Linked DNA regions of Homo sapiens. The protein of the gene in region 3 purifies or fractionates together with the protein of the main gene of each other region. This does not show direct contact. Each region holds a gene or a part of one and is shown on either strand. Other genes may lie near its edges.

Evidence for each region.
Region 1: the proteins of CRHR1 (region 3) and GNAQ purify together in Homo sapiens (affinity purification with western blotting, with the first as the bait; one study listed by BioGRID). This does not show direct contact.
Region 2: the proteins of CRHR1 (region 3) and GNAO1 purify together in Homo sapiens (affinity purification with western blotting, with the first as the bait; one study listed by BioGRID). This does not show direct contact.

Annotation. Positions count from the first base shown.
Region 1 is NC_000009.12:77,790,730-77,794,455, forward strand, and holds part of GNAQ (guanine nucleotide-binding protein G(q) subunit alpha), read right to left. Parts: intron 1-3,726.
Region 2 is NC_000016.10:56,348,489-56,351,988, reverse strand, and holds part of GNAO1 (guanine nucleotide-binding protein G(o) subunit alpha), read right to left. Parts: intron 606-3,500; coding exon 452-605; intron 1-451. UniProt on the Homo sapiens protein: Guanine nucleotide-binding proteins (G proteins) function as transducers downstream of G protein-coupled receptors (GPCRs) in numerous signaling cascades.
Region 3 is NC_000017.11:45,815,109-45,818,834, reverse strand, and holds part of CRHR1 (corticotropin-releasing factor receptor 1 isoform 2 precursor), read right to left. Parts: intron 2,373-3,726; coding exon 2,253-2,372; intron 1-2,252. Other genes in the region: LINC02210-CRHR1 (CRHR1-IT1-CRHR1 protein), read right to left, coding at 2,253-2,276.

The DNA.
Region 1 (3,726 bases), on a different chromosome or scaffold from region 3:
TATGAGGGAAGGGAAAGAAAGCTGGTCTGGAAGGGCAGGGGACCTGGCCTTCAGTGACCTTGGCCACAGGCCTTCATCTCTTCATTCCTGTAACCTCATCGTTATGACGCACACCAGCAAACCTGATCTGTCCCCGCCACGGTGAGGTCAGCTGGTAGATTCTGATGAGTAGCAGCTTCAGCAAGTTTTGGGTATAAAGTGCTAAGGTATTATAAACGTCTATGCTTTCCTTTTATCAATTGAGCAACTTCAAAAATCAGGTTTGAAGGATGAATACATGTTTATGGAAACCAAGGTCAGGGAATCCACCTTGATCAAGGAGGGCCTAGGGTAGGGAGAACTATCTTGACGTTTTAATAAAATGATAACATAATTCCTCATGACCATTTCAAGATGATTAATAAATTCAAAGCTCACATTCAAAGAGGACATGGAGGAGAAAAAGGTCTCAGTCTTTGAGATTCTATAAAGAGCTTAGCCTGGAAGACAGTCATTGAGACAATGTCTGAGAAAACATCTTTGTAGTAGTGCTCAGATATTCATGAAACAGAAAATCAGAAAAATAAAGATTAAAAGGCAGTGTTTGGATACACACTGATAAACTAAAATATGTTATAAGCATGTCTTATTGTGTGCTTTGGGCTTTCAGGAGCACTGAAATAACATACCCATGAAAGGATTACAGCAGAATAGTGGATTCCATGCTGGTGTGTTATCACAGGGAAAATAAGACAGCAAAGGGAATACACACATCAATAAGACAGTAAAGGGAATACGCAAATCAACACAGCTCTACCACCCTGGGTATTCTAGCCACTATTTGATAATGTATTTCCTTCTTTGAAGGAAAAAAGAAATTCATTCCCCAAACAATAGAAAGGCTGAGAATCTAGGCAGACAAAAGCAGACCTACATAAAATTATGAAGATTTATAAGGTTTTAGAAATATTAAAAAGCAAAAGCAATAATCTAAAATGCTTCCCTTAGCTGCTTTTGTCTGTGGTCTGCAATGCATTTTCCACAGTTTCCTGGGATAGAAAGAAAAGCTGTCAGAATCCATTCCTAGGTTTTTCTCACAAATATATACCAAGGGAGGGAGGCACAACAAAGTCTGCTTTGGATTAAAGTTATGAACATCAGACTTCTAAACCAAGAACAAAATGTTTCTGGAGTTTATTTCAGTTTTGTCTCACCAAAACCAAAAAATCTGGGGAAACTAGAATTCTGTAGTTCTGAATTTTCTTAATGATTAAGGAAGCTGAGAGGCAATGACATTATCATACATTAGTACAACTGGGGAAAAAAAGGGGTAATGAGACTACATCCCAACATTAAAAAATATTTTTTTGACAGTACTTCCTAATTACAGACAGTGATAGCTGTGGCTAATATGGATGAAGGAATTAATGAACAGCACTTTTCTCATGATCCCATACTATCATCAGGCTTGACTAGAGGTCTCAGAAAGGAACACCGTACAAGTTGACTTTCATCTTATAGAATTACCTAGACTTTCAAAAGATTCACAAGTGATTAGGGAGTCCTAATGAAAAAATGATAGCTTTATTATTTTAATTTGTAATTATTTAAAAGTAGCATAAGACATCACCACAGGAATCAAAGGAACTGGGACAATATTTTTAGACGTTCTTAGTACCTGTACATTGAATGTCAAGTTACTGTGGGAACTTTAATTATGACACATGATAATAAAAACGATGCCATTTTATTCTAATTAACATAATATACTTTTATATAAAAATCTAGTCACTATTAGCTATGTCTGAGGAAAAATGGAATAAATGATCTGTAATGTTCAGATAACTGAAGAACCAGATTCAATTCGGTTGAACTGAATTAGCTGATGAGTTGCCAAAGGATTCTACTTTCTTTTCTATTTTGATAATTTTGAAGTGGTAAATTGATAAGTATTACATCATGACATATACTTCTTCATATATATATAATGCATTTATCTTGTGGAAAATGTGTATTGATAAACACTTGTCCTCCTCTAGCTATAATGTAAACATCAGAAATAAATTCACATTTGCTTCTTACATCTCTTGTGTAATTGATAAATGCAAATTTTATTTTACTGGATGGCAAATTAAAGAAGAGAAATGACAACCTACATAACAAAGGCTTACCTTTCCCCCTATGGCTTATTCTGACCAAAAGCATATCTTGTTTATAAGGTCTTCTAGGGCAGAGTTGATTTTTTTCCCCATTTTTGTGTCTTTTTAGATACTCTGGTACCCAGCATATAGTAGGGAAGCCCTCAAAATATTTTTTTGTCTTGACACAACATTCAAAAAAATCAGAAGTGTTAGAATAGATCTGCTCCCAAAATATGCAGTATGTTTAAAATACTACATCCAGGGATTATGTAACAAACAAGCACAGACATAAAGATATACAGATAAAGATATCATAGCTAAAATTCTGACAGTAACTGCCTTGTATCTTGGTAACTTACTGTCATATATTGTAGCATGCTTTTAGGCACTTTGCTTTAGAGTTATTGGGGGCAACTGATTGATAAACAAGCCTCATTCTTAAACAGAAGTTATTTGGTTAACTCCAAAGCCAATATACTTGTAACTCAGGAATGATTCCGAAATGCATGAACAGGTGACTCTCGGTTCTATATAGACATTGGTTCACGGAAACTTTATCAATCCTATACATAAAAGAAATACTATAGGAGCTTGGATATGTATTTTAATGGAGATATTAATACTGGCAGAAAAATATTTAAAAGAACCAGTCAGGAATTCTTGTGTACCTAAAAAATGTACTGTATTAAAAGCATAATATGCTAGATCCTATTTTAGTCAGCAAACGGGGATCTCTCACTTCCTTCTTTTTTGCTACCCTATTATTGGGATATTTAATATTTATTATTAACCTACCACACTGCAATCTCTGCCTCTAACAGGATATCAATGGTGTCTTCCCCGTTCCCCCAACACACACATACACATGCACACAACTACAGCTCAGAAGTACAGATTTCTACATCCCTTAATATATTCCATAATCGATTCATCGTCAGGTCTTTACCATCCTGAAAATCCACATTTACACCTATTAAGTTTCCCTGTAACAGGGAGGAGATAACAATACTGAAATTGTTCTCCAGACAGGCATATTAAGGATACTTCTTCAACTGCTCACTGCTTAATAGAGACAAAATTATGCAACAGCCTAGAGAATTCTATAAGAGCAGAAAGGCCGCATCACCAAGATATTCCATGGTTCATAATGAACTGATTTAGAGCCCAGCTGCGAAGTCATTCACATTTGCCAAGAGAGATTTTGAGTACTCTTTGGGACACACCCATCACACAAACAATGATTTAAACAAAATGAAAACAAAACAAAACAGGATGACTCACTCCAACACTCCCAGTTCTATCCTGTAGGAGGAAGACTATAAAATGATCTGATGATTAGCCTAGGATTTCCATGTTATTTTCATTTTCAGAACCTCTGCATAGTGTTAAAAAGTATCAAATAGGCTCTAATTAGATTTGAACACAAAGACCTGCTCACACATCTGACAGAAGAGCTTACCACAGGATTATTTTTGGTTATTTTAAAAGTCCTAAAATCAAATTTCAAGAAAGCAAAGAAGTAAGTTCACTCCATTCCCCACACCCTACTTTCTATCATTTACTTGTATCAGATAATAAAATGATAATCCATTGCCTGTCTAAAGAA
Region 2 (3,500 bases), on a different chromosome or scaffold from region 3:
GGTGGGGCCAAGAGGCAGTCCAGGCCCTGTTCACAGGCCACGTGTCCACTTTTCGGTTTCATGCAAAGGTGCTGTGGGGCTCTGGGCAGGGGTGAGGGGAGGCCACTGCTGAGATTACAGGAGGCTGTCCTGAGACCTCTTCTAGAGGGTGACCAGGAGGAAGGGGGAAGCCTGTGATCCTGTCCTGCCCCCTGCTCCCCACCACTCCTGAGTCACTTGGTCCTAACACATATATCTTAGGAGGGGCCATTTCCACCACGCTGAGGGCTGTGTCCTGGGAAGCCCAAACCTGGTGGCACAGCACTGTTTTTCTTTTGCGCCCCACCAGTCTCCTGCAATGGGTCCCGCTCGCCAGCTAGCCCCAGCAGTGCTGGCCGAGCAGCCTGTTCTCTGAGCCATGGGTCCCTGTCAGGGGCAGGCTTCCCCCTGCACAGGACTGCCTGGCACCCACCTGTGTATTCAGGAAAGCAGATGGTCAAAGGTGACTTCTTGATCTTCTCGCCAAAGAGATCTTTCTTGTTGAGGAAGAGAATGATGGAGGTATCGATGAAGAACTTGTTGTTACAGATGGAGTCGAAGAGCATGAGAGACTCGTGCATGCGGTTCTGCGGCCGCAGGAAGGGAGGAGAGAGGACAGACAGCGGGAGGGAGACACAGAGACAGGGAAAGAGAAGGAGAGAATTAGGCTTGACAGAGAGGGACTGGGCTACTCGGCAGCTCCTCCGAGAGGCTGCCAGATGGAACCTGAGTCAGTTACACCTCACAGCACATCTCATTCCCTGCTTCCGGAGAACCCGTCATGTCGGGGCCAGAGGCAGAGACTGGACTGGACACCAGCCATGGCTCTCTGGGGAGGCTGAGGACAGGGTGACCCGGGCTCTCCCCACTGCAGAGTTCCCAGCTATGTGAGGGTCTCCCAGCACACGTGTGTGTGGCTGTGTGCATGTGCCTGTGTGTGTGTGCATGCACCTGTTATGTGTGCCTGTGTGTGTTCGTGTGCATGTGTGCCTATGTGTGTGCACCTGTGTGTGCATGCCTGTGTGCATCCATGTGCTTGAGTGTGTGTGCGTGCCTGTGTGTGTGCCTGTGTGTGTGGGCGTTGGGGGAGTCTGGACCGGAGCCGGAGAGCTGGGCTTTGGCCCTTCCTGCCTAGACCTCTCCTCCTGGGCCCATCCTGGGTAGGGGGATGTTCTCTGGGAGTGGTGAGAGACTCCGGGCCCTTCCTATGGTCTCAGGGGAAGGCATGCCAGGTCCTGCCAGCATCCTGGGTGCCACCACTCAGGGGAGAGGCTCCTGGCAGGGCCACCTCCAGGAGCACCTGGGGGACTGGCCACACCTCCTCTGGCTGGGTCCTACTCAGCTGCATCTGACACTGCATGATGTTCTAAGCAAGGCAGATGTGGAGGGCTGCCCTGCACACAGGAGCCTGTTTAGCAAATGGATGAACGTGATGGGCGCCCCACAGATGCCGAACGGGGGCAGCCTCTTGCCCTGGGCAAAAACTCTGCTTTGGGGCGCTGAGCTCATTCACTTGGGCAGAGTCTGTCTCTCAGCAGCACAGAGGGCATCTTTCTCTGTGAACGAATCCATTTCTGCACAGGGAGTGGGAGGAAGGGACAGTTTCCCTTATTTTCCCCAAGAACCCTGTCCTAGCCCTGGGAACTTGCTCACTGTAAACCCAGCTCTCTGGATCTAAAGCCCAGAGGTGAACCAGGCTAAACTCTACCTCTGAAATAAGAAGAGTGACACAAGTAACAAGAAAAAGAAGACAGCTGGTGTAGATGCCACTGGGCATCTACGGGGAGATGACCTCCTCCCCCAGGGGTGAGCACACCGTGGGTGCTGAGGAATTGCTGGTCCCACTGCCACACCGCCCCCCTCTGAGCAGAAGGAGGGCAATGAAGATGAAGTGACCACACCAGTCACTGAGGCCCACACTGTGCCAGCGCTCTCCCTGCCCATGTCACTTAACCTCATCTGGCCTGAGGGGACACCGCGGTGACACAGCTGGGCCAGATCCAGAACTTATGCAATGGGTCTCTCCAGTCCATATCAGCAGGCTGTGGGGCTTTCGAGGAATCGATACTAACAGCAGCATGGCGGGCTCCGTGCGTCTTACGGCCAGTCCTCCCTTCAGTATCTCCCCCGTGCCTACATCATTCTACCATGACCTGTAGAGGCGGCCAGCCCCAGCCCCTGGTTCCTATTAGCTGAAGTTGGTCGGCGGAGGGCAGCGTTCTCAGCTGCCTCTCAGGGGCACCTGGACAGCTGGCATGGCGTTATTCCCCACCCCCCAGGAGCTGTAGTACACGGCACTGCCCTTTCATTCTGCTAAACAGATTCAGTAAACTCATATGATCTCATCACTCTCCTATCCTCAATCAGTAAATTTCATTCTGATTCCCCAGGAGCATTTCCCTGTCATCTGTGTGATCCCTCCGGGGAGGAGCAGGTCTCGCTTGCCCTGAGCCACCTCACTGGGATCTGTTCAGAAAAGGGCAGCCGGAGGCTTCTGGGAGGCCCAGTGAACCTGTGTCCAGGGCCTCGGGCTGTCCACACTCAAGCTCATTGAGCCACATTATGAGGCCAGAGTGGTGAGGCTCTGAGACCCCAAGGATTCCACAGGAACATGCTCCCCACTCCACAGAGCCACCTTGGCCTGCAGCTGCCTAACAGAGAGCTGGAAACCCACAGCCAGAGCCAAGCTCCCTCCTCCACTGCACATCTTCCCAGGCACTGCCAGGAGCAGCCACTAGAGTGACCTGAGCTGGGAGTGGGGACTGTGCCCCCTTGGCCACTGAGCTTAGGTGTGGAGGAGAAATCAAGTCCGGCTCATTTAGGCTCCACAGTTCCACTGGTTAAGGCTGAGCCCCCGCCACAGCCCCTACATCTCAGGGCCACAGAGCACGACTCACACCACACTCGCTCCTCCAGTCAGTACTGCCTGGCATCTGTGTGCAGGGCTCTCTGCTGGGCTGCCCCGAGGATGTAAGAATGACCACATCAGGCTCCTGCTCTCCGAGAGCTCAGAGTCCAGCTGGAGAAAGATGATCACAGTCTGTGGTCCCAGGAGTGGCAGTGCAGGGGAGGACTTGGGGAGCAGAGGACAGGCATAACCAAACCTGGTTTTATGGGGAGAGGGCCTTGGAGGGAGCCCCAAAAGGCGGCTGATCCTGGAGACTCGGGGAGGGCAGTGAGGAGGGGAGATCCTGCAGGGCAGGGGAGGCGCCGGCACTGAGACCCCTGCCAGCCCCCCAGGCCTGACTGCCCTCCCTCGGCACGCTGCCTGGAACCCATTGCCAAGGAGCTGAGAGCACAGCTCATCCTTACAAGCTCCCCAGAGGAAGCAGACGCCGGGGTACATTCAAAGAAGAGATACCACCATTTGAGAAAAGAGAAAGAAGTCAGAGATCATAGATGGCTGACAGCCAACCCCCTAGACCTCCACCTGCCCCAGGCTGCAGTGGAGGCCCAGGAGCAGCAGGAAGCAGTGCCAGCGC
Region 3 (3,726 bases):
TTTGAAGATCAGATGCAGCAGGAGGGAGGGCATTAGGGAGAAGGCCTAGAAGTCCTGGCAGCAACTCATCAGTAAATGGATTAATTAGTGCTTAATGATGAGGTGCAGCTCTGGGTACCCACTTGTGACTGACTGCACGGGCGTGCTCCACCTCATCTGGCGCTGGAGGCACCTGGAAAGGGGTCTTCCAGCCCTGCCCTCACAGACTGACCCCATGTCGAGAGGCCATCACCCCAGCTCCTTTCCTGGGATCACAGAGGGAAGTGCGGGGGAGCCTAGAGAGCACCACACTCAATCCTCCCACCCATTCTGCAGGTGTAGAAACTGAGGCCCACAGAAGGTCTGTGCCAAGGGCTACTTAACCAGCTGCAGATGCAGCTGGAATGAGAACTTAGGACTCCTGACTGCCACTTCAGGCAGGGCCAGCAAGTGAAGTGTGTGCCCAGGCACTGAGGGCTGAAAATGTTTATCTGGAGCATGTCAAGTAACCCTTTGCAACGGGAGCAGAGGGAACTCATGGGGGGTGGCCAGGGCTGGCTGCAAAAGGTGACAGGGCCATGACCACAGACAGCCTGGCCGGCCCCACCCAGCAGCCTGAACACGGAGGCCACACAAGAGTGGGTTCCAAGTGAAGGAGTGACCAACTCAGATCTGAAACCTGAGGCTGGGCGGTGGCGCTGGGGAGTGGGGGCAGGTAGGCCCAGACACGAGGATCACTCTGGAAGTGGACATGACAGGAACTGGTGCCTCCTCCTGGAAGCTCCTCTGATGTGCAGATGCTGCCTCCTTCCTAGGGGCTCCAGAAGGACTCAGCCCCCAGCATCGTGAGAGTTATCGTCCCTGGGCTGTGACCCTGCCTCCAGGCTCTGCGACCTCCGATAGGTTATTAGCCTCTCTGTGCCTCAATTTCCTTATTACAAAATGGGCCTGACTATATTGGGGGCTGGCCAACTGTGCACCCCTTGGACTGACCTGGCCAAGAGGCCCTTCTTCCTTTCTGCACTTCCTCCCCTTGGCCCCCAAGCCCCTCCCAGTGTGTCTTCTCCCTCTCCCGAGTCCCTCCCATGGCCAGGACATGGTACAGACACACGAGGCTGCTAGATCTGGCTGCCCCAGCCTCCTGCCCTGCCCTGGCCTCCCAAGTCACTCCCTGGGGAGTCACTTTCTGGCTGGGTCTTCCTACTCCTCTGCTGTAGCCCCCAACCTTAACACCCCAAATCCATCTGGTAGAGGAAAGAGGGGCAGGAGAAGGAATCTGGGAGTTTTGAGCTGGAAGACATCTTAGAAGCCAAGCCATCCAGCCCTCTCCATCCTCAGATGAGGGGCTGAGGGCCAGATGAGGGGCAACAATGTGCTGGGAGGTCACACAGTGAGTCTTGGAGTAAACTACATGGTGTCTGGGCTCACCCCTGTGCCCTCTTGGGACTCTGAGTTCAAGACCACAAGGACCCAAGGGTGCACACAGGAGGCCCCAATTGCAGGGATCAGGCCCCCAGCCTCCCCTCAGGTAGGTTAGGGCTCCTGGCCCACAGCTGTTGCTCTCTTGATAAGCAGGGACCTGACTCATTGACAGGGGAGAGCAAATTAATTCTGAGAGTGGCAGGCGGAATAGCAGGGAGCTGCAAAGCCCGGCTCTGGGGGTTTCGGGCCTCCGGGGAGCCAGGTGTTTACATGAGGATCAAGTATCCGACGGACCCTGGGTCAACCCCGTCCTGCCCCACTCCACCTACAAATCCAGGATGCAAGTTGAGCCTGTGCCTGTGCATCTGAAACTCTGGGTCCCCTGCCTCCTGGCTGGAGGGCCCGGGGTAGGCCTCAGAACCTCTCGACTCAAGGTTCTTATCCACACAGCTGGGGCTCTGATGATTCCTGCCCTGCTTCATGGTATTACAGTAGGCTCAAACAGACTAACCTGAAGTTTAATGGCAGAAGAAAGTGCCAGACAGACGTGGATGCAAATTCCAGCTTCACCCCTTACCAGCTGCCAATGGGGCAAGTTCCCTAACCTCCCTGAGCCCCAGGGGCCTTAGTTATAGGAGGCGTGATAGTGTCTTGCAAGGGTATTGTGAGAATCACGAGTAATGAGCACAGGGCACCCAGGAGAATACAGCGCTGACCTTTGGAAAACAGGGGCGATCCCCACAAGAGGTATTACTGTTATTGTCATCGTCATTCTTCCTTCCCCCACCTCCAAGCTCTCCCCATCCTGTCCCACCTCCCAGCAGATGGTCCACCCTCCACTTCTTCCTTACTTGTGGTATTGTAGCGGACACCATAGAAAAAGGCAGGGCAGGGCCGAACCACTAGCTGCCCCGCAGGGCTGCGGGGCCAGCAGGTGCCAATGAGGTCCACGGATGCGTTGCACTGCAGTCCTGGGGGCAGAGACGGCTGGTAAGGCACAGCAAGATATCCGGCCAAGGCCCCAGGCAGGCAGAGGACATTCCAGAGTTCTGCCCACCTCCCCACTCGTTCCCACTCACACCAGCTAGGGACAGGATGACAACAATGACCAGTGCAGAAATGAGCTCATCCTATGCAAAGAAGACACAAGGGGAAGAAATCTGAATCTGATGCTATGGTACTAGGGAGCCAGCATGGGTTCCAGAGCAGAGGAGGAAGAGAGATGGCTGGAGGTGGTGTTAAAAGCTAAGGTCCTGGCATTTAGAGGAAGCCTGGGCATGCTTCTGGTCCCCTGCTCTGTAGCCTAAGGACACTTCTCTTGGTCCCTCGCATGGTGACAGCCTGGAGCTCTGAGACATCACAGGAACACCCTGGAACAGACCCATCCAATCATTGACCTAGCCCCTCACGTCTCTGCAATCAAACCACATCTACCCTGGCCCTGCAGGGAAGAATCAGCTAAATGAAGTTGGCCCTCCTTCCGGCTGGCCTGTTCCTTCTTCCGGCTGGCCTGTTAACCACACTTACTGACCATACGTCACGTGTACTTTGTTCTGTGCAGGGCCCTAGGACAGGACTGATGGAGAAGTGAGCTATGGAGAGGAAAGGGAGGGAGACACCATCTGGGGGAGTGGAAAGGACACACTGAACTGGGAGTCTGGGCCCACTGCTTCAGAATGGGCTGTGCCACTAATTTGCTGTGAGATCATAGGCAAGTCACTTGCCCTCTCTGGGCCTTAGTGTCTTGTCTTCATCTATAATAAAATCAAGTGGTTGAACCAGATCAGAAATTCTTAATCTCAGCCCACTGGAAACTTCAACAGTTCACAGAGACCCTGAATGTAATGAAAATATTGGTGTATACATGCATTTTAATGGGGAAATGGGCCCACGGCTTTCATTAGATTCTCAAAGGGGTCTGTGACTCAAAGAGATATAAACATCTGAACTAGAAAGAAGATGTCAAAGTCCCCTTCCAAATATTTGCTTTTTGGAGGAGAGAGAGAGAGCACGCGAGAGAGAGAGGATGTTGGGGCAGAGTTGAGGCCCAGTGACACTTCAGGAGGGGAGGGTGGATATGGCCTCCAAAGGGTGGGGGCTGGCACAGTCCTGGCACCCCCCTGAGGCTGCCCCTTCTTTCTCTGCCTTTTAGTGCCTCCCTCTGAGTGAGGCTGGCACACCAGTCCTTTTGAGCCCCAGTGTCCCCAGGTTAATAACCTAGAATTGGCACAAGAGTGGACAGACAAGCCACGGAGGGCCAGGAACCATGAACCAGCGCGTGTGGGGGCAGCCTCTTCAGGCCTGGGCCGAGGCCTTAGCAGCTGC